Linked DNA regions of Homo sapiens: all the other regions are reported to be linked to region 3. Evidence: microRNA targets listed by miRTarBase, many of them from high-throughput screens and not tested one by one. Region 3 holds a microRNA gene; each other region holds the end of a gene's coding sequence. Distances are from middle to middle.

Region 1 (5,000 bases), not on the chromosome of region 3:
ATCTCAGCTCACTGCAACCTCCGCCTCCTGGGTTCAAGTGATTGTCCTGCCACAGCCTCCCGAGTAGCTGGGACTATAGGCACCCACCACCACACTGGCTAATTTTTGTATTTTTAGTAGAGATGGGGTTTCGCTACATTGGCCAGGCTGGCTTGAACTCCTTACCTCAGGTGATCCTCCCACTTCGGCTTCCCAAAGTACTGGGATTACAATAGGCGTGAGCCACCGTGTCTGGCCTAAATTTTGTTTTTAATTAGGGAAAGGAAAGGGCAAAGGGTTTGAGTTGCTGTCTGAACTGTGAGAAAAATGGCTGTAATATTTTTCTACCTTTTCAACTTTTTAAAACTAATCTTTCTCATTATCCTCAGATCATAGGTATATTGAACTGTTCCTGAATTCATGTCCAAAAGGAAAATAAGACTCTAGGGGCTCCAGATAATAAGGTAAATTTAAGAGGTAATACTGTGGGCTGGGTGCAGTGGCTCACACCTGTAATCCCAGTACTTTGGGAGGCCAAGGTGGGCGGACCACCTGAGGTCAGGAGTTCAAGCCAGCCTGGCCAACATGGTGAAACCCTGTCTCTACTAAAAATACAAAAATTAACCGAGCATGATGGTGGGTGCCTGTAATTCCAGCTACTCAGGAGGCTGAAGCGGGAGAATCACTTGAACCCGGGAGGCAGCGGTTGCAGTGAGCTGAGATTGTGCCACTGCACTCCAGCCTGGGCAACAGAGCGAGACTCAAAAAAAAAAAAAAAAAAGAGAGAGATACAACTGTGGAAATTATTTGCTATTGATAAACTAATAATCATTCACTCACTAATTTGTAATATGGTAGAAACCATTCTCTTTTTATTTTTCAAATTTTTTTAGGGACTAGGTCTTGCTCTGTTGCCCAGGCTAGCAGTGGTGCGATCATAGCTCACTGCAGCTTCAACCTTCTGGGCTCAGGTGATTCTCTCACTTCAGCCTCCCAAGTAGCTGGGACTACAGGTGTGTACTACCATGCCTACCTAATTTTTTAATTTTTTGTAGAGATGGGGTCTCACTATGTTGCCCAGGCTGGCCTTGAACTTCTGGCCTTAAGTGATCCTGCTGCCTTTGCCTCCCAAAGTGTTGGAATTACAAGAGTGAGCCACCCCGCCTGGCACCATTCCTTTTTAATAAAGATCAAACTAATGATAATTGAAGTGTCAATATAAGGAATGAAAATTCTCGCTCTGGCTTCTCAGATGTGGGGGGCAAAAAAAAAAAAAGAAAATTCTGCTGGGAAATAGAATTAATTATGATATTTTTTCATTTTTTTTAAATTTTATTTTATTTATTTATTTATTTTTTGTGAGATGGAGTTTCACTCTTGTTGCCCAGGCTGGAGTGCAATGGCTCGATCTCCACTCACTGCAACTTCCACCTCCCGGGTTCAAGAGATTCTCCTGCCTCAGCCTCCCAAGTAGCTGGGATTACAGGCATGCACCACCACGCCCAGCTAATTTTTGTATTTTTAGTAGAGACGGGGTTTCTCCATGTTGGTCATGGCTGGTCTTGAACTCCTGACCTCAGGTGATCCGCCTGCCTCGGCCTCCCAAAGTGCTGGGATTACAGGCGTGAGCCACTGTGTCCGGCCTACTTTTTATTTTTTTTGAGACAGAGTCTTGCTTTGTTGAGCAGACTAGATTGCAGTGATGCAGTCTGGGCTCACTGCAAACTCCGCCTCCTGGGTTCAAGTGATTCTCCTGCCTCAGTCTCCCGAGTAGCTGGGACTGCAGGTGCCCGCCACAATGCCTGGCTAATTTTTTTGTATTTTTAGTAGAGATGAGGTTTCACCATGTTGGCCAGGCTCATCTTGAACTAACTCCTGGCCTCAAGTGATTTACCTGCCTTGGCTTCCCAAAGTGCTGGGATTACAGGAGTGAGCCACTGCTCCCAGCCATAATTCCTTATGATTTATATGGTAGCTTTGAGCATTATCTCCATATAGAATTTTTATGCATAATTTCCAACATCATGCTGTTTGCCAAAAAATAGCCACCTTTAGTAGCTATAAATCGTAATAGACTGGATATGTGACTTGCATTAGCTTTTTTTCCCCACTTAAATTTAAACACGTTTTCCATTTTCTCAGGTTACTTTTGTTTTTTTTTTTTTTTTTTTTTTGATATGAAATCTCACTCTTTTTGCCCAGGGTGAAGTGCAGTGGCACAATCTCAGCTCACTGCAACCCCTGCCTCCCGGGTTCAAGTGATTCTTCTGCCTCAGCCTCCCAAGTAGCTAGGATTACAGGCATTCTCTACCACATCCAGCTAATTTTTGTATATTTAGTAGAGACGGGGTTTCACCATGTTGGCCAGGCTGGTCTCAAACTCCCGACATCCAGTGATCCGCTAGCCTCAGCCTCCCAAAGTGCTGGGATTACAGGTGTGAGCCACCACGCCCAGCCATTTTCTGTTTTAAGGTATTTTTAAAAGGATACCATGTGAAACCAGAGTGTATCATCCATAAACACAGTTAATGTGCCACTGTTTCCTTTTCCTAAAATGGCATTTTTTTTTTGCCTTAGGAAGTACATAATTTTATAGTGTTAACCTACCCGTGAGATTTGCTTAATACATCTTGATGTTCCTTGCCTCGATTAAATATATGGTGTCTTTTTTTTTTCCCATAAGGTATTGTAAGTATTACTGTTGTATTGCAGTCACTTTTCTACAGGTAATGGCTCATTCTTTTGAGACACTTACCTGTAATGATTTCTTGAAAACACATGGGGCCAGGCATGGTGGGTTACTCCAGTAATCCCATTACTTCAGGAGGCTGAGGCAGGCAGATCACCTGAGGTCAGGAGTTTGAGACCAGCCTGGCCAAAATGGCGAAACCCTGTCTCTCCTAAAAATACAAAAATTAGCTGGGTGTGGTGGTGCATGTCTGTAGTTCCAGCTACTGGGAAGGCTGAGGCAGGAGAATCACATGAATCTGGGAGGCGGAGGTTGCAGTGACTGAGATGGTGCCACTGCACTCCACCAGCCTGGATGACAGAACGAAACTCTGTCTCAAAAAAAAAAAAAAAAAAGGAACAAAAAAACACGGACATTCATTCTATTACTATATCCTATTCTATTGCTTTTTTTTTTTTTTTGGGAGACGGAGTCTCTCTCTGTCGCCCAGGCTGGAGTGCAGTGGTGTGATCTCCGCTTACTGCAACCTCCGCCCCCCGGGTTCAAGCGATTCTCCTGCCTCAGTCTATGAAGTAGCTGGGGCTACAGGCGTATGCCACCATGCCCGGCTAAGTTTTGTATTTTATTTTTATTTATTTATTTTTTGAGACGGAGTTTCTCTCGTTGCCCAGGTTGGAGTGCAATGGCACAGTCTCAGCTCACTGCAACCTCTGCCTCCTGGGTTCAAGTGATTCTCCTGCCTCAGCCTCCCCAGTAGCTGGGATTACAGGCATGCGCCACCACACCCGGCTAATTTTTTATTTTTGTGGAGACGGGGTTTCTTTATGTTGGCCGGGTTGGTCTCGAACTCCTGACCTCAGCTGATCTGCCCGCCTCAACCTCCCAAAGTGCTGGGATTACAGGCGTGAGCCACCGTGCCTGGCCTCTTCTGTTGCTATTTTTGGATATGAAGTCCCACAATTCTTTGGTGTTAAATATTTATAATAGCTAAAATCTATTTAAAATATATTCTGAAACTCAGTTTTTTGTACCAGCCTGTAAACACTAATGCCTGACTAGTTTTCCTCACTTTAACTCGGTTTATCAGATAGCTTGCACTAAATTAGAAAGGAGAAAAATTTGAATTTGCAATTTTAAATGGTATGGGAATGTGTGCCATCCTTTTTCATCTTGAGTAAATGTACAATATTTTTTGTTTTATTTTTAGGGTGAAGCAAGAAGCATTTCATTTGCACATCTTTCTTGGACTTGGGATATACAGTTCCAGTTTATTAGCAGCAACTGCTAGGGAAATGATTTTGGTGTTTTGGGTTAATTGCTTCTAAGAAAAGTTTCATAGTGGACTGTTTAGAAGAAGAAATGAAAGATCCAGTTTGGGATTATGAAATAAACCACAAATTAAAATTTTTGTTTAAACTGTCCAGGATCTGATTTAAAAATATGGTCTTTGTTTTATATGATTAAATGGTTTGTTTTCATAGATGATATGTTACTCATTGTAAAGACCACATATTTTTATTCAGCAGTGTTCTTTAAACGGTTTCATTTAAAAAGTAACTTTTTTTTTTTGCCTGTGAATTGAGTGCTCTGATGTAAAACTTCTCATGGAGTGAAACAGTGATTTATTTTAACCAAACATTCACCAAAGCAAAGAACGGTTTCAGACCTTTGAACTGGTATGGTTTGGCAGAATAGTTTTAAATTTTGCTGTATTTGATTACTTAGAGATAGGAATTTTTAAAAATCAAAACAAAAAATACCACAGCTTAGTGTAAATGACAATTTGGCGGTTTTATGTCTTTAGAAATGTTTTGCCTTTCTAAGCCTTGTGCTAAAGGCGTATAACGGTGGTGCCTATCTACTTAAGGGGGCATTCTAGTCTTAACTTAAAAGTTGTCTAAACTGTCCCTCCCTGGCTTTTTTTGGTTTGGGGTAGACCTAAGGGTGTTTGTTAGTCTCAAAACTGTGAAGTGACATGTCAGAACAGTCCAGACTGGTAAGAAAATTAATGGCTTCACTTGAATTTAAACCAGCTCTAGATAGGAAAAAAATCAGTCTCCTCATTTGCTTTTTAAATGGAGTAGTACATCCCATATTTTAGAACAAGTAGGGGTGCCTTGCTTAAATAAAAATAGCATTTAATGTATAATTGTGTGAAGGGTTTATGGATAAAGCTGTACTTCTGTCACAATGTGGCAGTACTTTCTGCTTTAATATTAAACAGCTTGTTATTTAAATATTGGACAAAATGGCTGGCTTCAAAATATAGTCATTAATAAACTAACTTTATGTGCACCTGTGTAGGAGAATCAAAATCCTGTATGCTTTCTTT
Region 2 (5,000 bases), not on the chromosome of region 3:
CAGTAGTTTAAACAGACATGAAAATGCTGCCTTAGATCGGGGTCCCAAACCCCTGGGCCACGGACAGATACTGTCCACATTAGGTTCTCTTAGGAGTGTGAACCCTGTTGTGAACTGCAGATGCGAGGGATCTAGGTTGCTCACCCCTTATGAGAATCTAACTAATGCCTGATAATTCATCCTGAAACCAACCCCCTCTCCCCCAAGTCTGTGGAAAAATTGCCTTACACGTAACCAGTCCCTGGTGCCAAAAAGGTTGGGGTCTTCTGCCTTAGACACTATTAGGTCTGCATTTAGTAAAACAGAATGGGCTGGTCCACAACTCCAAGTGCCACTGAAGTGTTTCTGGGACCTTTTTTTTTGCAGTACTGCAAGTGCCTCGCCTTAGAGCAGCCTTTCCAGTTTTCACAAGAAGACATGCCCCGAGTGCGGAAGAGGATTTACAAGGAGCTATGTGAGTGCCGGCTCATGGACTGAAACTCAGCAGGGACTCTGGGAAGTCTGACCAAGTTGGAGCAGATGGTTTGTTACTTGAATCTCCAAACACTTAGTTGAATTTTTACAGATATTTCAGATCAGTGGTGTTGGGCCACTATTGTTACCTCAAATTTATTTTTTGCCCTTATTCATTTCTCCAGCTACCATGTACTATTGTTTAATGTTCAGTTTGGTTTCATTTTTAATTTTATGGTTCTGTGCGTCCCCCATATTTAATATTTATTATTCAAACGCATGCATATAGACAGAGCATGCAGTGAAGAGTATTAAAAAAAAAAGCTTAGTAGATTTGGTGCAGCTTTTGAAACTTAGTTAGACGTGAACTGAATACAGGTTTCAAATTTACTCCCAGAACCTAAAAATGCAAGATGTTTTTGATACAACATAACTCTGAGAATAGTAAGTGTTCCCTGGGGCATTAAGGGTAGCTGGGGGTGGTTTTGACAAATCCAGTCCTGTTTTACTTTACCAGCGGCAACTTTCACCAACTTCCCTCTCCAAGTGAGTCTTAGAGAGTGCAGTCCATTCCTTTTGAAGGGTGAGATGGAAGTGGTCGTAAACTGACTGGTGTCTTCTGTTTCTGGAGGCACACTTGTAAGCACAGTGGCTGCTTTGGGAGGAGTAAGGTGTGAGAAAAAGCAACCTTGGAGGCCAGTAACAATGACAGATTTCAATCGTGGTTTTAGGAATTATAATACGTGGCATACATCTCATAAAGGCTTTTGCTGGGATATTGAATTCCCTGAATTTTTCTGTTTTCGACCTGTTAAAAAAATCTTAACATCCATCAAACTAGTGGTCAAACAAATGAGAATGCAGCTGTTCTCAGAGTAATTTTTAAGTTGTCATTTCCCTGTGTTGCCTCCCAATTGGAAGAAGTTAAGGTTTACCAAATGCATTTCTATTTCAAGGGTATCTGAAACGTAAACATTCAAAACTGAAGGCTGACTGACTTGAGATGTTTTGCAGGTGGCTGGAGAGAAGAGGGAAGGTAATAGAGACAACTTAGTCCCATGGGAGCGCAGCAACCGTGTCAGGTTCTTTCTCCTGTCCCATTAGTGACCTCAGTAACATGCAGGGTACGTCTGGCTTCTGCATGGCCAGTGCTGACACTAGCACAGCTGTTCTTCTCCTTCTGTTGAACCTCATCTTCTGAAGAAAGGCCAAGTGGCCCTTGTCCATACACTTAGCTGCATTAGGATGAATATCACGCGTCTCACATCTTTAATCCAGCCTTTCGTGACATGTTGGAAAGATACATGTGAAACCTACCCAGTTACCCTTTCTGAATTGGGAGGAAAACCAACCAATGTATGTATGAGAAACTCAGAAGTCTGAATAGAAAAACAAAGTAAATGGCAGAAGATTCTCGAGTTTATGCCCGCGTAGGTTTGGAGTGTTGAAAAAGCTAAAATGTTTAGTTTCACTTGGCCCTGAGGTATGGTTGAGAAGGCTGACTGCCAGCAGTTGAGGATTGAGTCCGACCATGTTTACATGCAGGGTTCCCAACACCAGTGGTGACACTGGGAAGCAGCCCCAGCACTTTCCTCTCCTGAGTCCTCCAGACCCAAAATCCTTAATGTCAAACCAGGTCAGTGTTTCTTACTGTGTTTCAAGTCGTTAAAAAGACTGAGAGTAGAGGCACTTTATGCTGCTATAGGTGGGGTTCTGTCAGCGTTAGGAAAAAATGACAGTTTAGGGTAAGGAAGATCTCATAATGAGTTTTTCAAACATAATTATGCAAACATGAGATTTTTCAAAACATGCCAGAAATTTGCCTCTGATTTTTTTTTTTTTTTTTTTTTTTTTTTTGTGGGGGTGTGGTATACCAAAGTAGCCAGTCACTGGGCTGTCAGTTCAAAATGTCTTGTACTTCAGAGTGAGGAAGTGTTTCAGTTCCTCAGTGACAGAACCTGGCATGCAGAAGAGACAGAATTGTTCCTGTAAGAAAATCAACGCCGAGAGAGAGCTGCCCAAATCCAGTGACTCTTCCACTTCCAGTCTCATGCTTCATAGGGCACCTTGAGGTGTGCTGCCCAGTGTGGCTTAGACTAAATGTTGAGTTTGGGTTTTTTGTTTTTTTTTTTTTTTGAGTCAGAGTCTCACTGTCCCTCAGGCTGGAGTGCAATGGCGCAATCTTGCCTCACTGCAACCTCCACCTCCCAGGTTCAAGCGATTCTCCTGCCTCAGCCTCCCAAGTAGCTGGGATTACAGGTGTGTGCCACCACGCCCCACCGATTTTTGTACTTTTAGTAGAGACAGGATTTCACCATGTTGGCCAGGCTGGTCTTGAACTCCTGACCTCAAGTGATCTGCCCGCCTGGGCCTCCCAAAGTGCTGGGATTACAGGCGGGAGCCACCGTGCCTGGCCAATGTTAAGTATTTTAAAAGTCATTTTAAAATATTTGTCATTGATGAAACTTGGTTTCAGCACACGTAATTGCTTTCCCTCTCTTCTTGTGATTAGGTGTAAACCTCTATTTAACTCAAGTCCTAGATTAGAATGTCCTTTGTCCTGATGTTTGCAGTAATTGCTTCCTTGGTTAATAAAGATATTTTTGAAATATACTCTGGACTGTTGGTGAAAGAGGCAGGCATGGCTTTACTGGTACTAGTTTGGCACTGAACTGTTTGGGTGCCCATGAGGTAGGCAGACCTTATGCTTTTTTTTTTTGAGACGGAGTCTTGCTCTGTTGCCCAGGCTGGAGTGCAGTGATGTGATCTCGGCTCACTGCAACCCCTGCCTCCCAGGTTCAAGTGATTCTCCTGCCTCAGCTTCCCCAATAGCTGGGACTACAGGTGTGCGCCACCACTCCCAGCTAATTTTTGTATTTTTAGTAGAGACAGGGTTTTGCCATGTTGGTCAGGCTGGTCTCGGAACTCCTGACCTCAGGTGATCCACCCGCCTCTGCCTCACAAAGTGCTGGGATTACAGGCATGAGCTACCGTGCCTGGCCTAAACCTTACGCTTTTGAGGTTGAGTGCAGGCCTTGTGATAACTAAGCGCTACTTTTGACGAGCCTTCAACAAGCTGCCCAGTCCTCTCCTCAGCAGACGCATCAGGTTGTAGTTGCATCTTTACAGTGGTCTTTCCTTTTATTAAATCTATAGCAGTGAATATAGATTTGATTCAACTTTTAGTTACGTTCTCTCAAGAATCCTAATCAACTTTCAGTTAGCCTCTTAAGAAAGGGAAAAAAAGGTGCTGCCAGTCATCCCCAAATTATGTTTTTGGCTGTGCATTCTATTTTCTACATAGCACTGAATCTGAGTAACAGTCATCCTGGATTTATAGTTGGAACAGAACAGTAACAGACCTAACTGGGACTCAGCCAGCACTAGCCTCATCTTAGCTGCCCCTTTTCTCTGCTTTGCAGTTTACTGCTTCCCTGGGCTAGCCATAACGGGGTTCTGGGCAGGTCAGACTCTTCAGCAAGACAGTGTATTAATAGTGTGAATTAGATACACTGATGACCTGCTCTGCCTAGTTAAGAAACTGAATTAATCAGCAGTTACAAAGCACATACTTTGTTACGTGCTAGGCTTTGCCTCCTGGCCTCTAGATAATTAAGACGGCCCAGGGAATACCAGCAGAGAAGTGCTAATTGTATTTGGGTGTTACAAAAGCAGACCTAGACGAGCTGTTCACTTAACTGGTACCTGTTGGTCAGAAAAAGAATTTATTTAGAGATTATGATCATGTAAAATTACAGTACTCAACCCTTCTAGCAAAGTATTTTTTTGAAAAATAAACTAAATGCCTTTATAAACTTGTGTTCTCTCGTCTTGAGTAACATGTACTGTTTGGCGAGGAGTAATTTTTTTCTTGTGACATTCCAGTCACGACAGAGGTCATTTCAGAACAGTGAGCAGTGCAGGCCCTAACCAGCTCACCCTCAGAGCAGCAGCACCATCACTCGAATTTTCTACAACGGAAATGTTCTATATCTTCATCTTAGCTTGACTGAGAAACTGAATGTTTAATTCTCACACTTCACTAACATGTATTAATAGTGATGCCTTCATCTGTACGTTTGAATTTTCACTTTTCTCCGATTAAAGTGAGAAACAGGTCAGATGCTATCCATGAGAAATAGGAAAGAATGGTGCAGTAAAGAGACTCACATTTAGTGTTCTCTAGCCCAGGAAACATAAGATGTTCTTAATCCACCCACAATTTCCCTTCCCTTGCAATCATCCAGAGCATGTTTTTTGGAAAACTAACCTATTCTTCCATCAGTAGAGGTTGCTTGGTGCCTATTTGATCACTTTCACAAGAAAATCTGTGCGCTCTCTTCACACGCAGCAATAGTTATTTCCAACTGTCAGTCAATCAAAATGGACACGCGAATTGTCCACACTATTCATAGAATCCCCCTGGAACTCATTCATGTGTATCCAGAGTACAGGAATTCCAGAACACAACCCTCTTTATAGGCCAGGAAACAGGCAGCAACAACGATAAGTTCATCCAGCTTTATTGAAACCTATTACAGAAGACA
Region 3 (5,110 bases):
CCAAACCTAGAGCCCATGCCCAGGGCCCCACTGACACCTGGTGGGCAGGGGCAGCCTGGTGACCCCACATGACATGGGTGGGCGTGACGCAGCACCAGCTGGGCCGACAGCCCTCCCCCTGCTGGTTTTTAATGCTCTGCAGTAATGTCATTTGGCCTGCGAATAAGCTTTCACACATTTTATATTAAATCTACAAGTATGATTTATTCAGGCACTTACGAATTTAATCAAATTTGTTTCTAAATATTACTGATTTTTGTTATCAAATGTGCCATCAGCTGTTGAGCTTTGAGAATTGAGCATCCTGGCTTTTGCCATTTTGAGGATCAGCAGAAGCATGTCTGGAAGAAATGTGAGAAAATAAAACTCAGGAGCCTACCCCCACCCTGCCCTTCCAGGAGCTCAGCCCCAGAGCCAGGCTGCTAAGGCCATGGAGGCTGAGGGCAGTGGAGCTGGGGTTTCTGGAGCCTCAGGGGCCCTGGTTTGCTGGAAGGGCAGGCAGGGCTTCATGGAGGGCATTAGGCAGTGGCCAGAGCCCTGCAGTGCTGGGCATGGGCTTCTCGTGGGCTCTGGCCACGGCCCTGAGCTCCTCCCCTTACCTTCCCAGAGCGGAGGGTCACCTGCTGAGCTGGGCACGGGCTTCTCGTGGGCTCTGGCCACGGCCCTGAGCTCCTCCCCTTGCCTTCCCAGAGCGGAGGGTCACCTGCTGACAGTTTGGGGCGGCTCTGTCTTTGAGAGCATGCCCTCATGAAGGCAGAATGTCCTCCCTGCCTCCATCCTCTGTGGCCCGGTGGCTCCTGCAGTGCCTGCCCTCAGAGGCTGGTGGCCTGGGACACAGGGATGAGGATGGGCTTGGTGGTGCTGCAGGTCACAGTGGGTCATGAAGGAGCTTTGGGGGTGTTGCATTCTCTGGTAAAGCACAGCAAGGGAGCCCTTTTACCCACTACTAAAACCTGGCTCTGCACTGAGGCCATGCGCAGCCCAGTCAGGTGGACGAGGGGGTAACGACTGGACCGTGGGGAGGCATCAGAGGAGGAGCTGCTGAGAGGCGGGTCACCACAGCCTGGTGCCTGTCTGGAGAGGGTGGGGCTGGGGGAGGTGCTGGCCAGGTCCATGGGGGTGGCCAGGCTGGGTCTGAAAGGGCCTTGCGCTGGTGTGGGGTGAGCTTGGTCTGTTGGGAGAGTATGCAGTTCATTGGGGCCTCCCTGGCTCCAGGTTTGCATGTCTGAGGAGTGGGTATCATCAGGGCCTGGGGCCTCTCCAGTGGGCATGTCTGAACTCTCCCAGGGTTGGGAGCCTGTGCTCATCACAAGCTCAAAGCACTCCATTTCTGCTACCATGAAGTCAAGGATGGTGACTGTGAGCCGCCTGGGACCTGAGCTGCCTGGGACTGTGACTGAGGCACCCGGGGTGCCTCTTAGGGCCTTGGGTTTGGGCCCATGGCTAGATGAGCCTTGGTGATTCTGTGGTATTGCCTGGGCCAGGTGGACCCAGGGGCAGCTGCGGCTAGTCCATTTGGAGCTCCTTCAAGCCGAAGCATCCAACACCAGTGTCTGTGAGGTGTGGGCCCGGCCCCAGGAGCGGGGCCTGGGCAGCCCCGTGTGTTGAGGAAGGAAGGCAGGGCCCCCGCTCCCCGGGCCTGACCCCACTGCTTCAGCCCCCTCCTGCCTGCCTACAGCCTGGCCTCGAGGGCCCATCAGGTGAGGGGACCCCACCTGCACCACCCCGTCCTACCTCCTGGAGGAGGCCTTGCCCCTGACAGGCAGCCTCCAGCCCTCCCACCCTGATCCCTGTGTGGGATGGCCAGAGCATGCCCAGCATGCTGGGGTTCGGCGGTGGGGGGCATCTGGAGGGAGGGACATGTCAGTTCGGGGAGGGATGAGCAGCCTAAGTGACTGCAGTGCTGGGCCATCTCCTGCATGGTGGAGCTCCCCTCGAGCCGCCTGTCTGCAGGGGGCTCTGGCCAGTAGTGCAGCCGGGCAGGGTCTGTACGGCACAGGCTGCACCAGCCTCCATGCAGACCAGTCTGTGTGGGAGTGGGGGTCTCAGAGGGCCCAGCCGGCCTATGCCATGAGCATGGTGCTGGCCCAGAGGGGGAGCTGAACAGCAGCTGGGTCGGTGCGTTACCTGGTGGGGCAGCAGACAGCAGCTGCCCTGGCTGGGGTTCAAGCCCCGGGCTGGCCTGGTGGAATCCCCTCTCCGTCACCCCCAGGTTCTGTTCTTGCAGGTGTCAGGCCTGGGGCCTTGAGACAGACCTGCAGTCTCCACCACAGCCACAGTGGGTGGGGTCTGGGTCCTCACGGAGGTGATCCTCCACCCCCACACCTACCTTGTGCATGGCAGTGGTGTCTCCTGGAGCTGGTGAGACCCCACCTCACTCAGGAAACCCCCCAGACGCCCCCAGGCAGAAGTGGCCATACTCCAGGGCCTGCATCCCTGTGCCCCACAGTGCGCCCTGGCCGGTTGGTTGTAGGAACTCAGAAAAGCAAAGCAAACAGGATGGTTCCCTGCTGGACACATTACATTCCCTGCTGGACACATTTCTATTGCAGATCTTTAGTCCAGGATTCCAGGGTAGCCAAGGTCACCTGAGTCCTGGGGACTCTGGGCCTGGTCTCTGAAAGCAGCCAGTAAGACAGAGATGGGAAACCCAGCAAGATGGAGTGAGCCAAGGGCACAGTTGGGTCCAGGCGCAGCAGGGAGCTGCCTGGGGGTGACACACACTTGACGGAGGCCACTGCACACACCCTACCCCGGCCTGAACTTGAGCACTTCCTTTTTTTTTTTTTTTTTAGATGGAGTCTCACTGTAGTCCAGATGGAGTGCAATGGCGTGATCTCGGCTCACTGCAAGCTCCGCCTCCCCGGTTCACGCCATTCTCTTGCCTCAGCCTCCTGAGTAGCTGGGACTACAGGTGCCCGCCACCACACCCGGCTAATTTTTTTGTATTTTTAGTAGAGACGGGGTTTCACCGTGTTAGCCAGGATGGTCTTGATTTTTCGACTTCATGATCCGCCTGCCTCGGCCTCCCAAAGTGCTGGGATTACAGGCGTGAGCCACCATGCCCGGCCAAGCACTTCCTTGAACACAGAGGTGACCATGAGGAGGGAGGCGTGAACCAGGATGACGGGGCAGCAGATGGAGCCTGCCTCCCTGAGACCTCAGGTGACCGAGTGCTGGACTGCCTCCTCCTGCCTACATGGCTGAGAAATAAACTTCTTTTTCAAACCACTGTGACCTGGGGTTTTCTGATACCCTCAGCAAGCCTGTTCCTGTGGCCTGGTGTGGGTCCCCTGACCTGTGGCCTGGGCTGCCTGTATCCGGCCTGCCCCTCTGCTCCGCTGTAAACCTGTGATGGCAGTGGAGGGGCTTGGCCTGGGCCCGCCCCACCGCGAGGTCTTCCCCTCTCCGAGTTCTGGGTGTGGTTTCAGTTGAGCCACGCCGTTGGACTGGGCCGGCCTGGAGGACAGAAGGCACAGGCTCTTCCACATACCTGGCTCGTGGCCCATGGGCCGTCTGCTCACGGGAGCCCTGCACCAGGCCATGCAGAGCAGTGAAGTCAAAACCTCGTTTCCCAGGTCTAAGGTGAACTGGGAGCAGGGCAGGAGTTGGCTCTGTCAGATGCCACAGTTGTTTGGGGACAGTGTCCGTAGAGAATGTGTGGCCCCCCTCCGTGGTCTAGGGTGGAGCGTGGATAGGCCGGTCACTCCTATCCCTGGGCCCAAGGCTCTTTTCCCCTGCCCTCCCGTGGGCTGGGAACTGCCACAGCTCAGACAAAAATCGGCCAGGGCAGGGTCCTGAGGCTTCAGTCCCAGGCTCCTTAGGGCACCCCTGGTGACCCAGCTCCAGCACTGAGTTTCCAGAGGCCTTGAGGATTTCCCTGGGATGCCAGATGGGCCCTTCCTGCTGCTCCTGGGGTCATCTAAGCTCCAGGCTTGGGTGCAGCCCTGGGCCCCTGCCACAGACGCCCTGAATGCACCTGCCCCTCCCGGTCCCCACGCAGCAGCCTCCTGAGCTGCGGATCATTTTCCTAAGAAGGCATTCTACTTGTGCCAGTCCTTACTTAAAGACCCCTGCTGGTGCTGGCAGCGTGCTACCGGGAAGGATGGTATCTCCTGTGCGTGTCCTGTGTACGCTGGCCTCACACGTGTGTGCCTCATGCGGGCTGTGCCCTCAGTCCTATACGCTCTCCCCAACCCTCTTTTAGGGTGTCACAGGAGAAAAATGACACATTCCTAAATCTCTAACACATGGGCTTGAAAACAAGTCTGAGGATGCCCTGCAGAAGGGCCATGGGCATGGACATGGAGCTGGGTGGCCTCGTGCACTGACCTTTCCCTCTTCCTAGCCCCAGGCCCGACCTAGAGGCCACAGCCCCTGCGGACAGGCTGTGGGGCCAGAAGGGCCCACTTCAGAACTTTTCTCGTGGGCAGTGTTTAGGCCACAGCCACCCATGTGTAGGGGTGGCTACACATGGGTGGCTGTGGCCTAAACACTGCCCAAACACGTTATATTTTTTATAACATGGAACTAGATGGCAGAAGTTTAAAGGGAATAAAAGAGCTACTGGAGACGATTTGCAGCTTTCATAAATTTCCAGAGACTGATAAAAACACAGACTTGAAATTGTCCCAAATGAGCCAAAGTGATGAAAACAAGTCTTTTCTAAAACTCTGAATTCTAAGGGAATGTAAAATGCAGAAGTTCAAATCGGGTTTAGAAAACCATAAGAAATAATAGTGCATTCGCCGGGCATGGTGGCTCACGCCTGTGATCCCAGCACTTTGGGAGGCCAAGGCAGGTGGATCACTTGAGGTCAGGGGTTTGGCAGCAGCCTGGCCAACATGAGACCTCGTCTATACTAAAAATAAAATTTAGCCATGCATGGTGGCGCATGCCCTTAGTCCCAGCCACTCCGGAGGCTGGGGTGGGAGGATTGCATGAGCCCAGGTGTTTGAGGCTGCAGTGAGCTGTGATACCACCACTGCACTCCACGCTGGGCAGCAGAGCAAGATCCTGTCTCCAAAAGACAAAACACAAAACAGTGCATAAAAAGGGGCCAGGCACGGTGGCTTATGGCTGTAATCCCAGTACTTTGGGAGTCTGAGGT
Region 4 (5,102 bases), 55 Mb from region 3:
CACTGCCTTAGGGTCACGTGCCCCCTTGGAGAATGTGAAAAACATGCTCTCCCACTGACAAGTGCACGTGCAAAAACCTTTTGGTTTAAACCATTCTGGGAGATTCATAGGCTCTCCCATGAAACCCAAACTCTGGGCCCACGTCAGGTGGCCAGTGAAGTGGCAGTAGTCCCCTCCACGCCTGTCACCCTTCACACCACCAGGCCCTGCACACCATCTCCTCCCAGGATCCTGCGACACCCACAGTGAGGGAGAGGAAGGGACTACCAGTTCCTTTTGACAGACAGGAGGCTCCTGCTCAGAGAAGTTGGACGCCAGGCCTGGAGCCACGGCCAAGCCCAGGGGAGGGCAGGGCCTCAATGGGCACGCATTTGGTTCCTTACTCTTCCTGATGAGGGCAGTTTTGAAATCAGCAAATTCAGTGATGGGGACAGAGACGGGGAGCTTCTGAATGTGGCTGCAGGTGTTAGTATAGAGGCTTGAACTGGTTCTAGGAGATTCCTAGGGTGTCCTTTGAATGTTGTCTTTTTAGAACTAAATCCTTGCTAGGTGTCCCCTCTGTCACTCTTATCTTCTCCTTCATTGCCCTTATCACAATCTGACAGGCCCTGCCTGTGGTTCTTAGCTGTTTCCCATGGTTAGAAGGTAATGTTGGTATCCCAGGACCCTGGTGCTCATCAGCCCCATGATAAACAGCTGTGAAATGCATCTGGCTAAGTGTGAGATGGTGCGGCTGCCACAACCCCTCCTGCCTGGCCTGAGATCTGGTTGGAGCTTGTGTCACTGTCACCCTCTCGGTCCTTAAGCCCTTCTCACCTCTCTTTCAGTTCTTTGCGTGTTTGGTGATGATCGCCTATGGAGTGAGTGCCTTCTTCAGCTACCAGGCCTGGCGAGGAGTAGGCAGCAATGCGGCCACCAGTCAGATGGCTGGCGGCTATGCCTAAACCACCTGTGCCACGGCCCCCTCTGGGGCTGAAGCCGCCGCTGGGTCACAGAGCAGGGTCACCCTGCAAGCCTGAAGCTGGGGAGCCCTGCGTGGAGTCAGCCCAACAGGGACTGCATTTGCTCCTCTCTGCCCGTCAGACATAAGCTCTCACAGCGCTAAGGAAGCAGGCCCAGGCTGGCAGGCATCTCGGCTTGCAGGAGGCCAACTGCTGAGACCTCTTCTCCATCCCCCTTATTCAGTGGAAGATGACGGGGGATCTGAGGCTGTGTCTCTGCCTTGTCTTTAGAGGACTTCAGCGTCCAAGACTGGGGCCCACCCTTCTCACCAGCACTAAATGCACTAACAAGGACTCCAGACCTGCAGCCCCAGACCCGCCGTAGTATAAGCCTAACAAGCAACACGTAGCACCTTAGTCTTTGTTCCAGGAGAGCTGAGCAAGCTGGTGAAACCACTCTCCTTCCTTTAAACACCGTTTCAACCAACCTCTCCCTGGAGCCAACCTGTAAAAAGTGGGTTGATTGCTGACAGCATGGTCTTCCCTCCCTGCATTTCAGACATACCAGTTACTGAAAGCAAATCAGTTTTAAGTGATTTCTCAGTGCTGAAAAGCCTGTCCAGGTTTCCTTCCCTTTCCCAAGCCTCTCTCTGTAATACTCCCTTTGGGCGAAGCTAACATCGGTGCCTCCCCGACCTTGCTGACTAGGCACATGGGACGCAAAGGAGGGAGGGAAGCAAGGCCTTGCCTGGCGAGTTGTCATGTGGTTGGTGGTGACTGTTTTATTTTTTTTAATAAAAATAAAGATGAGAGAAATTATTTGGACAAGATGTTGGCAAATCACTTTTACAGGTGCTTGTAACCTCCAGGAGACCTCAGCTTGACTGTAGAAGATGCCTGCTGTAGGGCAGTTCACGTTCTGGAGTCGTTCAGCACCACCTGCGAACTCTTTGACCGGAGGAAGGCTGCCTATACTTCCTGCTTGCTGGGTCTGGAACAGTCCTGGTTTATGCTGTTTGTGCTGGCATAAATAGAATAGCACGGCCTTTTATTCTCACAAGTGACTCAGTTTGACAATAACTTAGTCACCCTTGCTTTGGGCAGGTTAGGTGAGCTTACTGAATCAAAGATTTCAACAATATCATCTACCTTGAAAGTCTGTGAAGCTTGGAGGTCATATAATCAAGGTGGCTGGCCATGCTGCCTGCTCAGAGCTGGTAGAGACAGCAGAGGAAAGCAGCTGAGTACTCCTGAGCTTATTTTTCCAACACCACAGAACAACGTTCTCTGAACAATAAGGTAAAAGCATTTCTAGGTACCCTCTGTACCCTTTTGTTATTTTTTATTTTTATTTTTTGGAGACCGAGTCTTGCTCTAGTGCCCAGGCTGGAGTGCAATGGCGCAATCTTGGCTCACTGCAATCTCCGCCTTCTGGGTTCAAGCAATTCTCCTGCCTCAGCCTCCTGAGTAGCTGAGACTACAGGTGAGCGCCACCACGCCCAGCTGATTTTTTGTATTTTTAGTAGAGATGGGGTTTCACCATGTTAGCCAGGATGGTCTTGATCTCCTGACTTCATGATCCGCCTGCCTTAGCCTCCCAAAGTGCTGGGATTACAGGTGTGAGCCACCACACCTGGCCGATTTTTTTTTTTTTTAAGAGACAGGGTCTTGCTCTCTTGCCCAGGTTGGAGTACAGTGCCACAACTACAGCTCACTGCAGCCTTGACTGCCCAGGCTCAAGCAATCCTCCCACCTCAGCTTCCTCAGTAGCTTGGACTACAAGTGCAGGCCACCATGCCCAGCTAATTTTTGTTTTTTTTTTTTTTTGAGATGGAGTCTCACTTTGTCACCCAGGCTGGACTGCAGTGGCGTGATCTCGGCTCACTGCAACCTCTGCCTCCCAGATTCAAGCGATTCTCCTGCCTCAGCCTCCCGAGTAACGGACTACAGGTGCGTGCCACCATGCCTGGCTAATGTTTTGTATTTTTAGTAGAGACGGGGTTTCACCGTGTTAGCCAGGATGGTCTCGATCTCCTGACCTCGTGATCCGCCCGTCTCGGCCTCCCAAAGTGCTGGGATTACCAGCGTGAGCCACTGTGCCCGGCTGATTTTTAAATTTTTTGTAGACATTGGGTCTCGCTATATTGCTTAGGCTGGTCTTAAACTCCCAGCTTCAAGTGATCCTCCCATCTCAGCCTCCCAAAGCGCTGAGATTATCGGCATGAACCACCACACTTGGCCCTGGTATAAATATTAATAGCATCACTTTTTACTCTAAAGTCTCGGAGTTTGAATAATAAATTAGTCCTTCCAGGAGTAAGTTATAAGAGTTTGGTTTTAAGGAAGGGCAATACACTTAAATGTAAAACAAAATCCCAGGCAAGTTAGAGAGCTCACCCCTCTTATGTTTCCAACATGAATCAAAAGCCTGTTTCAGGGGGGACATTAAAGGCATTCAGTCAATGCTAAGGCTCAGCAGTTTGTGTGACTACTGCTTCCCACTGGGGAGGAGTCCTAAGCAAGAGGACTGGGGCTTCCTCACCCCAGGGCAGGTGGGAGCCCCATCAAAGGTGGCACCTGACATCACAGTCTAAGTGTCTGAGGATGGAGAGACAGGCTGCTAGTTTATTTTAAAAGAAATCAGAATGTCTACTTATAATATTAAGTGACAACAGACTTGCCTCCTTTTTGCTGAGCAGAAAGGGTGAAAAAACCAGCCAGGCATGGTGGCTCACACCTGTGATCCCAGCACTTTGGGAGGTGGGTGATCACCTGAAGTCAGGAGTTCAAGACCAGCCTGACCAACATGGTGAAACCCTGTCTCTACTAAAAATACAAAAATTAGCTGGGCGTGTTTGTGGACACCTATAATCCCGGCTGCTTGGGAGGCTGAGGCAGCAGAATCACTGGAACTCGGGAGGTGGAGGTTGCAGTGTGCCGAGATCGTGCCATTGCACTCCAGCCTGGGCAACAAAAGCAAAACTCCATTCCCAAAAAAAAAAGAAAAAAAAAAGGGTGAAAAACCAATTTGCCTTTATCATCGTTTTTTCATCATTTAATCTCTGGACTTGTCCACTGGCCTTTTCTCAAGTAGGCAGGCTGGTCCACAGGTCTTAGCAAGTGCTCCCAGCATGCCTGGGCTGTGGTGGACCTCCCATTTATAGACAAAGCAAGGGAAAGCAAGCCCAGGAGAGGTGGCATTTAAAAAAAAAAAAAAAAGACCAAAGCAATAATTAATAACCTTATGGCAGTGGCTACATTAAAGAAAGAATACAACTCATTGAGAATGGTGGTTCTTGCGAAACACCTGAAGTTTTACTCATGGTACAAAAGTATTTAATAAGTGACACATCAGTACAGAAACACAGAGCTTGTAGCTTGTCCTTTAAAACCAGAATGGCCAAGTGAAAAGTCAGTACAGATTCTTATTTTTACTATTAAAAAAAAAAAATCAAAGGGACACACTGGGAATTGAACTACTATGCTTTTTCTTCGTTCTAGAGATGACATATATGTTTTCTGATAAGTAATCTACCACACATTGCACTAAACCAAAGCATACAAACAGCCAGTAAAGCTGTGCTCTACCTGCTACTCATGCTGGGCTGGACAGTGGAACACCATCTTGGTAGGAGAGATTTTGACAGGAAGAAACTGCAGAGTCCCTACCTAACCCAGAGAACCTTACAAACTGGTTTATACACAAAGGATTTTCAGCAAACATGCAAACACACTAACATGCTATAGGAATATGTTTTAGTCTATTTCTAGCACACAGCATACATTCATAGGTGCCCAGTAAAATAGGAATGAATGTCAATGTAGAAAGCATTTTTGCCTTCACAGTACTAACAAACACCTAAAAAGCACACAGCATATAATACTTTGATCTTTAAGTGGATAATCATGGAAGTTCCAAGATCACATCCACTAGGTTAGCCTGAGTATTCATCTATAAAAATATTTTTTTTTTCAAAAATAATGCTTAAAAGAGACTTCTAGAAACAGTGGGACTACATCAGGACCAGAAGACAGTGACACAAGGACTGCAAATGTTAAGACTAGGAGTAGCTTTTCACATGGAGCTTTTATGTAGAGGACGTCTCCTTCTGTTGATTCCTACAGCCGAGACAAGATGTGATCACAGGAGACTCCAAAATC
Region 5 (5,110 bases), not on the chromosome of region 3:
GAGAGGAGACAGATATTGGGGAAGACTGGCAGTGTGTGCTGAGTTAGAGTTGGGAATGTGGCTCAAATTAGTCAATATTGATTAGGATATTGTTTTAGAAAATTTTAAATGTGTCCTAAATTGTGGCATATTGAAAACGATATTAAGGAACAATGACTCATTAGCCCTAAATACAATTTAATGAGTGCCATCAATGGGCTTAAGAAATAAGCAGGGATGGGGGATAGAGAGGCAAAATGAGGTGAAAGAGAAAATGGAAAGTGGAAAATATGTTTGAACATTGGAGAATGTGAAAAGGCCACCAAACTGCTTTAGTTATCACTCAGAAGTGCTCTTCCCATTGGCTACCTGCTTCTGATCACCCAAACACCAATTTTAGAGCAGAGGAGCAGTAATCCCCTTTATCTGCAATTTCACTTTCTGTAGTTTGTTACCTGAGGCAACCTTGGTCCAAAAATATTATGTGGAAAATTCCAGAAATAAACAATTCATGTTTTAAATCATAAGCCGGCCGGGCATGGTGGCACATGCCTATAATCCCAGCACTTTGGGAGGCCGAGGCGAGTGGATCACCTGAGGTCAGGAGTTCGAGACCAGCCTGGCCAACATGGTGAAACCCCATCTCTACTAAAAGTACAAAAATTGGCTGGGCATGGTGGCGGACGCCTGTAATCCCAGCTACTTGGGAGGCTGAGGCAGGAGAACTGCTTGAACCCAGGAGGCAGAGGTTGCAGTGAGCCAAGATCGCACCACTGCACTCCAGCCTGGGCAAGAGTGAGACTCCATCTCAAAAAAAAAAAAGAATAAAATAAAATAAATCACAAGCCATCCTGAGTGATGAAATCTCATGATCTCCTGCTCTGTCCTGCCTGGGATGTGAATCACCCCTTTGTCCTGCTTATCCACACTGTATACTACCTGCCCCTTAGTCACTTAGTAGCCGCCTTGGTTGTCAGACTGAAAAAACATAGTTGATAAAGGGTTCAGTACTATCTGAGGTTTCAGGCATCCACTAGGGGTCTTGGAATGTATCTCTTACAGATAAGGGGAGACTACTGTATTACATTTCAGCTTCCATAAAACTTTACTAATTTGGATTAAGAACACAAGCCTGATTTAGTAAAAAGTATCCATAAATATTCAGAGGTATAGTTTTGTTTCATCAAGTAAAAAGAGCAACTAATTCCAACTGTTGAAGTAGTAACAAGTAAAGGCTTCACCAGGCTTTCCTTGATGAATAGTTAAGACATATTTTTAGGTCATCAGCACAAGATTATTGAATAACTTGTATGCTACAAACATGCCGCTTCCACTCATCGAAACAAGCCAATAATCCTTACTATTCCAACTTGCTGAGAACCATGTCAGATGCTGCGTTCAAGAATGAAATGTTCCTCAAAACTGTTCTATCAAATGTAGTAGCTATTGGACATAAAACAAGTAATTTATTTCAGACTTTAGTTTTCATGAAGTATTTATCAACAACTTCAATTTATTCCAACATTAATTTATGATAGGACAGTTATTAAAATTAACCATTTCTGAGACTGTAACTTTGAAATTGTAAGAAATGGACAATTAAGCTCACTAGTCAAAATCTTGATTCAAGTGATGATCCAATAGCTTACAAATGTCTTCAATAAACTGAGCTTTGAGGCAGAACAAAAAAAAAACAAAAATCTAAAACCTCTCTATCCCAAGCACCAATAATGGAGGCTAAGCAATTATACCTACAAATCCTTAACGACAGGTCTCTCCTAATGAAAAATCCTGAGATTTAAGCACTGTGACTTACAGAAGGCAGGTTGGCTTAATGAGGAAATTTACTTTTAATAAAAAGACAATCAGCAATATTTTATTTTGGGCACTTAGCATTTCACAGATCCTCAATACATTTTGAGGTAGGTCAAATATTAATTATGTATTTTACAAACAAAACTCAAGCAGTTGTTTTATTACTTGTCCCAAACCACAGGAGCAGTTCTATCGTGGTCAGGAATAACATGGTCTCTGATCTTTCAGATTAATCTTTCATGTGTGAATTTAATGGTAATTACTTGCAAATATTCATGAAAAAAACCAAGACTAGATATAGAAATTCTACTCTGGGTTATTTTAAACTTCTTAAATTGATTCTATAATGAGTATATACTTGCTCTCATTACAAATATATATATATAACTGATCTTTACATTACAAATGACCACAGCAGTGACTGTGTTGCTTTTCTGCCTTTTGGGGTGAGTAGATCAGGAAGATAATCAGCAAGCTTTCCTCAGAGCACTAGGCAGCCTTTAACTTAAGGTGCTATGTTTGAGGCACCATTGACTATGATTTGGGGTCATAGGAGAGCAGGTATACTGATGGAACCAGGATTCAGAAAAGATGCCTGGATCCAAAAACGGGAGGCTCTCTGCAAGTCAAAGATGAAGAGAAAAATAGTAGCATCTCAAGCTACTGATCCTGAGTATCATGCTACAGCATTACAACTACTTGTGAGAGGAGCTCCTACAAGAGCAGTAAACTTGTCCCAGTAAAGTCTGCTAAGTTCTAACTAGATAAGCCACAAGTAAAACTAAATTGGTATTTTACTAAAGTGACATCTACAGAAGCAAACATCTAAACATTTTTAATAGGAGTTTTACCTGTCATGTAAATTACTCTAATTGTCACAAGCCTAATTCAATTAGCTTGTCATAATTCCTAAAATAATTTACCAAAATTCAGCTCATCTTGACATAGGTTCTTGAGCCAGTATTCCGAACCGTTTCATTATAAAGTTCCTTTTATTTAAACAATTGTAGAATATTAGTAATAATAAAGGATCAAGAATAGTTAACTTGAGCCTAGGAGTAAGGTTGCAGTGAGCTGTGATTGCACTACTGCACTAGAGCTCAGGTGACAGAGCAAGGCCCTATCCTAAAAAAAAAAGAGAAAGAAGTTAACAACTGAGAAATTAGAAGGAAAACGCCATTATTGTGTTATATAAAAGAGTAAGGATATAGACACCTATGCTTCCATATACAACAAACAGCTCAATACCATTTGAGTCAAAGAACAAAGGGGAAAAAAAAGCAGGTGGCAGAGGGCATGGAATGCAGAGTATTGAAGCCTTTTATTCTAGGGTCTCCAAAACTGAGTGTGGAAGTAAAAAGTTTCTACATTTAAAAAGTTTATATAAATTACATGAATTGCAACTTTCATAAAAATCAAAATGAAAGGTTCTGCATAGGACAAAAGATATGCCTAAGCAACATATCGTATTTGCACAAGGCCACTGAATGTCATGGATATTAGTAACAAATGAAAAGCTTAAGTCTATGGCAGATTGAACTAAGATTTCAGTTTGGTATTCTATAAGCCCGAGATTGTAAACTACTCTTATTATACAAAAGCTATAATGATTTACAGAGTTTTGTGTAGGAACTCTTGTGCTTCTGGTTGGCACATTATCTACTTTTTAAGTATGTGAAATTAATACAGACATTTGTGAGAGGTTGTGCAAAACTACTGTATTTACAAAAATGGCACAAAAGTGAATTCAACAGTTAATGCACATGCATACTTCATTCACATCTTCAACAACAAAAGGTATTCTAACTCTACAGAACTGAATATTAGCTTCAACGGCAGCTGTTAAGCACTAGAGTCACATAAGTTACACCAGAATGGGCAAATATTGCCCAAGTAAAATTCTACTGTTAAAGCTGAAACAGGTTTAAGGCCATTCAAGTTCAAGCACAGAGATACAAATCTTTCAGAGCCCCATCTAGTTGTGTTTGAAATATGTGACCTTTCTTCTAACTTGTGGTCTTAAACTTCTGTTTTACAAAATCCAAAAGGTAAATACAGAAGAAATCAATACAATAGAGATTATATTAAATAAGAGTAACATACAAAGCTATAATTAAGATGAAGTAATGAAAGCCAAAACATTAAAATTTTAAAACTTGCTTGTTACTTGTTAGAACCAGTACTACACTAGAAGTTAGGTAATATATACAACTATTTTCAAGTAGTTTACTTATGTTGCTCTAACATGTCCTCTTCACCAGTGCACTGTTAAACTAATCAAAAACTCTACACACGTATATTCCACAATAGCAGCACACACTACTGCTACCTGCAAAGCTGTCAGTCTCAAATGACTAGTGAATGAAAGGAAATAAAAAGTAGATAAGTAACATATTAAGGAGAAATAATGAGATTTAGCAGATTCATGCAGTTCAGCCTCTTAATCAGCCAGCCAGCTTGCTAGCAACAAGGGACGGCTTCCGTTGAGGAAGGTCTTGCGGAGTGGGAATGTGGTCACCAGTGACCTCCGTCTTATCCGGAGCTGCAGTAGGAAGTTGCTTGTTCTTCATTTTTGCTTTAGCCATGTTGTAATCCCCAGAATCAAAATATTTTTGCTATAAGTAAAAACAAAAAAAATTCAGATTAGAGCTTAGCAATTACTGATTTAAGATGTCGATGCAACCCCATACTGTCCGTATAAGGTTGGTCTAAAAGAATTTAAACAGGAATATTAATTAGATGAAATAGTCTCTGTACTGAGTTCCAGCATAAGTCAACAGCCGAGAAGCCCCCCTTCAGACTGGGCACAGTGGCTCACTCTTGAAATCCCAACACTTTGGGAGGCCAAGGCAGGCGAAACACTTAAGGTCAGGAGTTCCAGGCCAGCCTGGCCAATATGGCGAAACCCTGTCTCTACTAAAAAAAAACAAAAAAAACAAAAAACAAACATTAGCTGGGTGTGGTGGTGCACATCTGTAACTCCAGCTACTCCAGAGGTTGAGGCTTAAGAGTCATGTGAACCTGGGAGGTGGAGGCTGCAGTGAGCCAAGATTGCCCCACTGCACTCCAGCCTGGGCAACAGAGACTGTCTCACAAAAAAAAAAAAAAAAAAAAAAAAAAGAACCTGCCTTCAGGCTTTCTTGAACCATTCTGGTTCTAATAAAGAACCATCAAGACTAATATAATATTAAGCTATTTGGGAAGTCCCAGACTCAGTGAAATAAAATCTTTCATTTACTAATGGAACAACCAGGTGAAACACTTGCTTAAATTATTTTATAAATAAAACACATAATTTGGCTGGGCATGGTGGCTC
Region 6 (5,099 bases), not on the chromosome of region 3:
TCTGTCACCTAGGTTGGAGTGCAGTAGAGCAATCTTGGTTCACTGCAACCTCTGCCTTCCAGGCTCAAGCGATCCTCCCCCCTCGGCCTCCTGAGTAGCTGGGACCACAGGTGCATGCCACCATGCCTGGCTAAATTTTCGTATTTTTGGTAGAGATGGGATTTTACCATGTTGCTCACGCTGGTCTTGAACTTCTGAGCTCAGGAGATCTACCAGCTTTGGCCTCCCAAAGTGCTAGGATTACAGGCATGAGCCACCACGCCCAGCCTGCCAACTAGTTTCCCCAGAGGATTCCTCCAATCTCCTGCTGGGGTTGGACGGAAGATGGTTGAAGGGATGAAAACTTGGTTTTCATTAGAAAAGAGTGCTGAGGGCCCCACAGTTCAATATGCAGCCTTACATTAGTCCCCATTTCAGCCATATTTTTACCCCAGTCTCTACTGTCTGGTGTCCCTGATTCTAGAACAACTCTGGAATCAAGGACACCAAAGTCAATCCACAAATCACTAACATGACATGAAATTTTTACTGGCACATAGTGAAGTGAGAAAAGTAAGGACAAATTTGGGAATTTGTCATAAAGCTGATATAATATACAGGGCTGCTCCTGGCCGGACATGGTGGCTCATGTCTGTAATCCCAGCACATTGGGAGACCGGTCCTTCACCAGAGAATAAACCTCTAGTCTCCTTTGGGATGAGGAAAGGGTAATGGGATGAAGAAAGGCATGAGGGAGGAATGTGTGCGTAACAGCCAGCTGTATGGGTAGGTGAGGGGGTCTAAGGATCTGACATTAGAATTTCAATGAATCCCCATTTTCAGCCCTCTTTCTTCCATAATGCCCACTGTCTCCAAGGCCTCTGTCTTCCCAGGAACATCCTTGTGCCAGTATACTTTTCTGCAGGCTCTGCTAAGTCAGTCACCACTCTTCTATTTTCTCACCACCAAAAACTTGACATCTCATGTCTGCTTCTATATTCTCCTCTATTGTCTTTTATACCCTCCAGTTTGCTTATGCACTCAGGTTCATGAAATAAAGATAAACTCATGTTGTTAATCAGCCACATTTAAATGCATTTTAAACAAATTAGGCTGGGCACAGTGGCTCATGCTTGTAATTCCAGCACTTTTGGAGGCTGAGGCAGGTGATTGCCTGAGCTCAGGAGTTTGAGACCAGCCTGGGAAACATGGCAAAACCCCGTCCTACAAAAAATACAAAAATTAGCCAGGTGTGGTGGTATGTGCCTGTAGTCTCAGCTACTCAGGGGGTTGAGGTGGGAGGATCGCTTGAGCCCAGAAAGTTGAGGCCGCAGTGAGCCATGATCATGACGCTGCACTCCAGCCTGAGCAACATAGTGAGACTTTGTCTCAACAAACAAACAAAAACAACCAAACCAAATTAACACAGAAATACCCTTTTATCTTAAAGTATATCAGCTATGATTCTCAAAGGTATACGATTCTCAAATATTGGTCCACTTGCACAGAAAAGAAAAAGGAAACAAAAAATATTTCCTCACATATAAAATGTAGGTAGGAAAGTATATGGATTACATTTCTTTACTTGCATCATGGATACATAGTTCAATTCAGTTCAAATCAAAACCATTCAATACATATTTACTGAGTCCCTTCTGCGTGTCAGGCACTGTTTTAGGCACTTGTGATATATCAGTGAAAAAAACAAAGGCCCCTGCCCACATGGAGCTTACATTATAGCCAGGGGAAACAACAGTAAACAATAAACACAAATATGTGAAGTATCTAGGGTGATAGGTGATATGAAAAACATAGAGCAGGTGAAAGGGGTATGGGATTTCTCGATCTGGAAGGTAGACAGCTGCAGTATTAAATAGTATGGACAGGATAGGCTTCAGTAAGAAGGCAACAATTGAGCAAAGATGAGAAGGTAAGGGTATAGGGCATCTGCAACAGCTAGTGAAACGGCCCAAAGGTTAGAACAAGGCTGGAGTTCGGGAGAGGTCTGGGCTGGAGATGTGAATCTGGCAGCTGTTAAACAGAGACGGTATTTTAAGCCAAAGACTGTATGAGATCACTGAGGCAGGAACTACAGAGAAAAGTCATAGTCATGTCTTTCAGGGAAATAAGCAATTGGAGAAATTCAAATTCTTGGGAAATCTAAGACCATAGAAACATGGTAGAACAATTTTAAGAAACAGTGTATACCTCACTCTTTTTCTGCCCATCAGTCATACAGGACTTAAGAGTTAGAGGCCAGCTTTTTTTTTAAGTAAATGTAGTAATATGAAAAATTCTAGAGATACTGGTATATATTCTGGATTTATAGCTTTACTTTAGATAATTCACACTTATAATACTCACGTGATTGAAACTGTTCTATCTCCATATAAAACAAAGAAGTTGAACTTGACTTACTTCCAATTATGTCTGTAAGGATGGAGTATCTATTTCATTAAGTACAGTGAAGCATTAGGAGCCAATTCCTCTGCTTTCTCTCCGTATTTCCCTGCCTGAGTATGGCTCCTTCAGTCACCTTTCTCTGGTCCTCTTTGGTGGGCCTCTTGATGTGTTGTTCTAGGGGCTATCTTAAGAGACACTTCCACTTGATACAAAGCATATTTCAAATCTAATGTTGTATGCTTGGCAAAGGAAAAGGTAAATAAAGTTATCTGAAAGGTTTCTCCCCAGAATGAAGTCTCAATATATCTCTCTTCAAAAAGGCATCATTATGTTTTAAGGAATTGTGGTTAATTTTTGTAGGTATAATAATGGCATTGTGGTTATGTTTTCAAAGAGTGCTCGTTTTTTAGAGATACATCTCAAAATATTTATGGATTAACCATAATAAAAAACCGATCATTATAGAGGGAAGTCTGCATAAATATCTCCAAAAATAATTCCTAGGCTCCAAGACAGCATTACAAATGTAGCGTTTAAAGAATTATTGCAACAAAAATACTAAAGGAATTGCTAAGGAAATAATTTATGGCATATACACACACTAATCTGATACTAAATGATAGTCTGTTGTCATTTCTAATCATTTTACATACTCTATGGGGGGAGGAGTGAAAAATGACAGCCCTTGAGCCAAACGAAACCTAACAGCTGTTTTTTAAATGCAGTTTATGGGAACCACTATTGCACACATTCATCAGTGGGTCTCAACCAGGGACAATTTTGGCCTCTAGGTACACCTGGCCATGTCTGGAGACATTTTTGACTGTCACAACTGGGGGAGGGGCAGCTATCAGCATTGAATGCTGGCATCTTGTGGGTAGAAGCCAAGGATTCCCCTAAACATCCCAGGATGCACTGGGCAGCTTCCTATAGCAAAGTATTATCCGGTCCAAAATATTGGTAGTGCCAAGGTTCAGATACTGTAGTTTATATATTGTCTCTGGCTGTTTTGTACTAAAATGGGGAAGTTGAATAGGTGTGACAGGGACCACATGGCCCACAACACCTAACGTATTTACTATCTGGCCCTTTACAGAAAGTTTGCCAATTCTTGCTCTATATAAAACCATAAAATATAAATAAGCATCTCGTGTACAGTAAGTTATCTATCAATGCTAGAAAACTCCCTTTAACATTTTTTCTTCTAGAAATGAGAAGCAACATTTTAATTTCTACCTCTTCTAGCCATATAAAGGGCTAGAGTAAAAGGCTGTACTATATTTTATTCTGATTTATTAAAGGGATACTTAAAAGAGTGTTTCTCAAAAGTTAATCCACAGATCACTAACACGCCATGAAATTTCACTGGCACATAGTGAACTGGGAAAAGTAAAGATAAATGTGGGAGTCTGTCATAAAGCTGACGTAATATAACAGGCTGTTCCTGGCCAGACACGGTGGCTCATGTCTGTAATCGCAGCATACTGGGAGACTGAGGTGGGAGAACTGCTTGGAGCCAGGAGTTTGAGACCAGTCCAGCAACATAGTGAGACTGTCTCTACAATAATAATAATGATAATAATAATAATAATAATAATAATAATAATAAATTAGCCAGACATGGTGGTGCACATCTGTAGGCCCAGCTACTTGGGAAGCTGAGGCAGGAAGACTGCTTGAGCCCAGGAGTTTGAGGCTGCAGTGAACTATGACATCACTGCACTCCAGCCTGGGCAAGAGTGAAACTGTTTTTTAAAAAAGGGTCTGGGTCGGGGGTGGGGGAGGGGCAGGCACGGTGGCTCACACCTGTAATCCCAGCACTTTGGGAGGCCGAGATGGGCGGATCACCTGAATGGTTCGAGACCAGCCTGGCCACCATGGTGAAACCCTGTCTCTACTAAAAATACAAAAATTAGCTGGGTGTGGTGGCAGGCACCTGTAATCCCAGTTACTCAGGAGGCTAAGGCAGGAGAATTGCTTGAGCCTGGGAGGTGGAGGTTGCTGTGAGCTGAGATCACGCCACTGCACTCCAGCTCAGGTGACAGAGCGACTCCATCTCAAAAAACAAAAAAAAAAAAAAATGGAGGGGGGAACTGTTCCTACATTTAAAAATATTAAAATGTCCTTTCTTTTCTGAAACAATGCTGATAATAGGTGTTGTGTTTTTAATATGGCAAAATTAAGAGTTGGGAACATTGTGCCAAACCATTTTTTTTTAATGTTCGTTTTTGGAAATCCAAAAACAAATGGATTTTTGAGGGATCAGGGAACCACTGATTTAGAATCTTGTGCTCCAACATAGATTCTTTGATGTTTAGTATATTTCACACAACATTGCTGAAGGTATTTCTTAAATGTGTTTTGCAGTGTCTAATAAGGGATGAACTACAGCTGAAGGCTTTTCCACACTCATTACAATCATAAGGTTTTTCTCCAGTATGAATTCTCTGATGTTTAGCAAAGGATGAATCATGCCTAAAGGCTTTCCCACAATGACTGCATTCATAAGGTTTTACTCCAGTATGGACTCTCTGATGGATAGAAAGATGTATTCTCTGGCTAAAGGCTTTCCCACATTCCTTACATTTATATGGTCTTTCTCCAGTATGAGTTCTCTGGTGTTGAGTTAGGTATGTACTATGGCTGAAGGTTTTACTACATACATTACAAATATAGGGTTTCACACCAGTATGAATAATCTCATGTTGCCTAAGGTG

Evidence for each region. The annotated mature microRNA hsa-miR-940 reads AAGGCAGGGCCCCCGCUCCCC and lies in region 3 at 1,615-1,635, shown strand. An mRNA with a match to its seed (bases 2 to 7 or 8) in the 3' UTR can be bound and repressed. Matches are read on the target gene's strand: a 7mer-m8 pairs with bases 2 to 8, a 7mer-A1 pairs with bases 2 to 7 and ends in A, and an 8mer does both.
Region 1: the mRNA of GRSF1 is a reported target of hsa-miR-940. The part of its 3' UTR that is shown has no 7-base or 8-base seed match.
Region 2: miRTarBase lists SENP5 as a target of hsa-miR-940. Seed matches in the 3' UTR shown: 7mer-m8 at 2,679-2,685, 7mer-m8 at 3,238-3,244, 7mer-m8 at 3,264-3,270 and 7mer-A1 at 3,979-3,985.
Region 4: miRTarBase lists PLLP as a target of hsa-miR-940. The part of its 3' UTR that is shown has no 7-base or 8-base seed match.
Region 5: the mRNA of ARPP19 is a reported target of hsa-miR-940. Seed matches in the 3' UTR shown: 7mer-A1 at 2,285-2,291, 7mer-m8 at 1,799-1,805 and 7mer-m8 at 694-700.
Region 6: miRTarBase lists ZFP69B as a target of hsa-miR-940. The part of its 3' UTR that is shown has no 7-base or 8-base seed match.

Annotation. Positions count from the first base shown.
Region 1 is chr4:70,819,737-70,824,736 of GRCh38, reverse strand. GRSF1 (G-rich RNA sequence binding factor 1) reads left to right here. Exons shown (of 10, transcript NM_002092.4): 9 at 369-443; 10 at 3,876-5,000. The coding sequence ends at 418. Among named protein-coding and RNA genes, the nearest start is that of GRSF1, 18 kb to the left of the region's middle.
Region 2 is chr3:196,930,447-196,935,446 of GRCh38, forward strand. SENP5 (SUMO specific peptidase 5) reads left to right here. Exons shown (of 10, transcript NM_152699.5): 10 at 367-4,268. The coding sequence ends at 477. It overlaps NCBP2 (nuclear cap binding protein subunit 2), which reads right to left. Exons shown (of 4, transcript NM_007362.5): 4 at 4,960-5,000. Among named protein-coding and RNA genes, the nearest start is that of NCBP2-AS1, 6.9 kb to the right of the region's middle.
Region 3 is chr16:2,270,192-2,275,301 of GRCh38, forward strand. It overlaps MIR940 (microRNA 940), which reads left to right and starts at 1,556; the gene lies at 1,556-1,649. It overlaps MIR3677HG (MIR3677 and MIR940 host gene), which reads left to right. Exons shown (of 3, transcript NR_132988.1): 2 at 1,485-1,700; 3 at 2,796-2,881. MIR3677 (microRNA 3677) reads left to right here and starts at 522; the gene lies at 522-581. MIR4717 (microRNA 4717) reads left to right here and starts at 4,429; the gene lies at 4,429-4,500.
Region 4 is chr16:57,252,755-57,257,856 of GRCh38, reverse strand. It overlaps PLLP (plasmolipin), which reads left to right. Exons shown (of 4, transcript NM_015993.3): 4 at 828-1,760. The coding sequence ends at 944. ARL2BP (ARF like GTPase 2 binding protein) reads right to left here. Exons shown (of 6, transcript NM_012106.4): 6 at 4,222-5,102. Among named protein-coding and RNA genes, the nearest start is that of ARL2BP, 10 kb to the right of the region's middle.
Region 5 is chr15:52,547,696-52,552,805 of GRCh38, forward strand. It overlaps ARPP19 (cAMP regulated phosphoprotein 19), which reads right to left. Exons shown (of 3, transcript NM_006628.6): 3 at 1-4,409. The coding sequence ends at 4,239. Among named protein-coding and RNA genes, the nearest start is that of ARPP19, 19 kb to the right of the region's middle.
Region 6 is chr1:40,463,197-40,468,295 of GRCh38, reverse strand. It overlaps ZFP69B (ZFP69 zinc finger protein B), which reads right to left. Exons shown (of 5, transcript NM_023070.3): 5 at 4,581-5,099. The coding sequence ends at 4,707. Among named protein-coding and RNA genes, the nearest start is that of ZFP69, 12 kb to the left of the region's middle.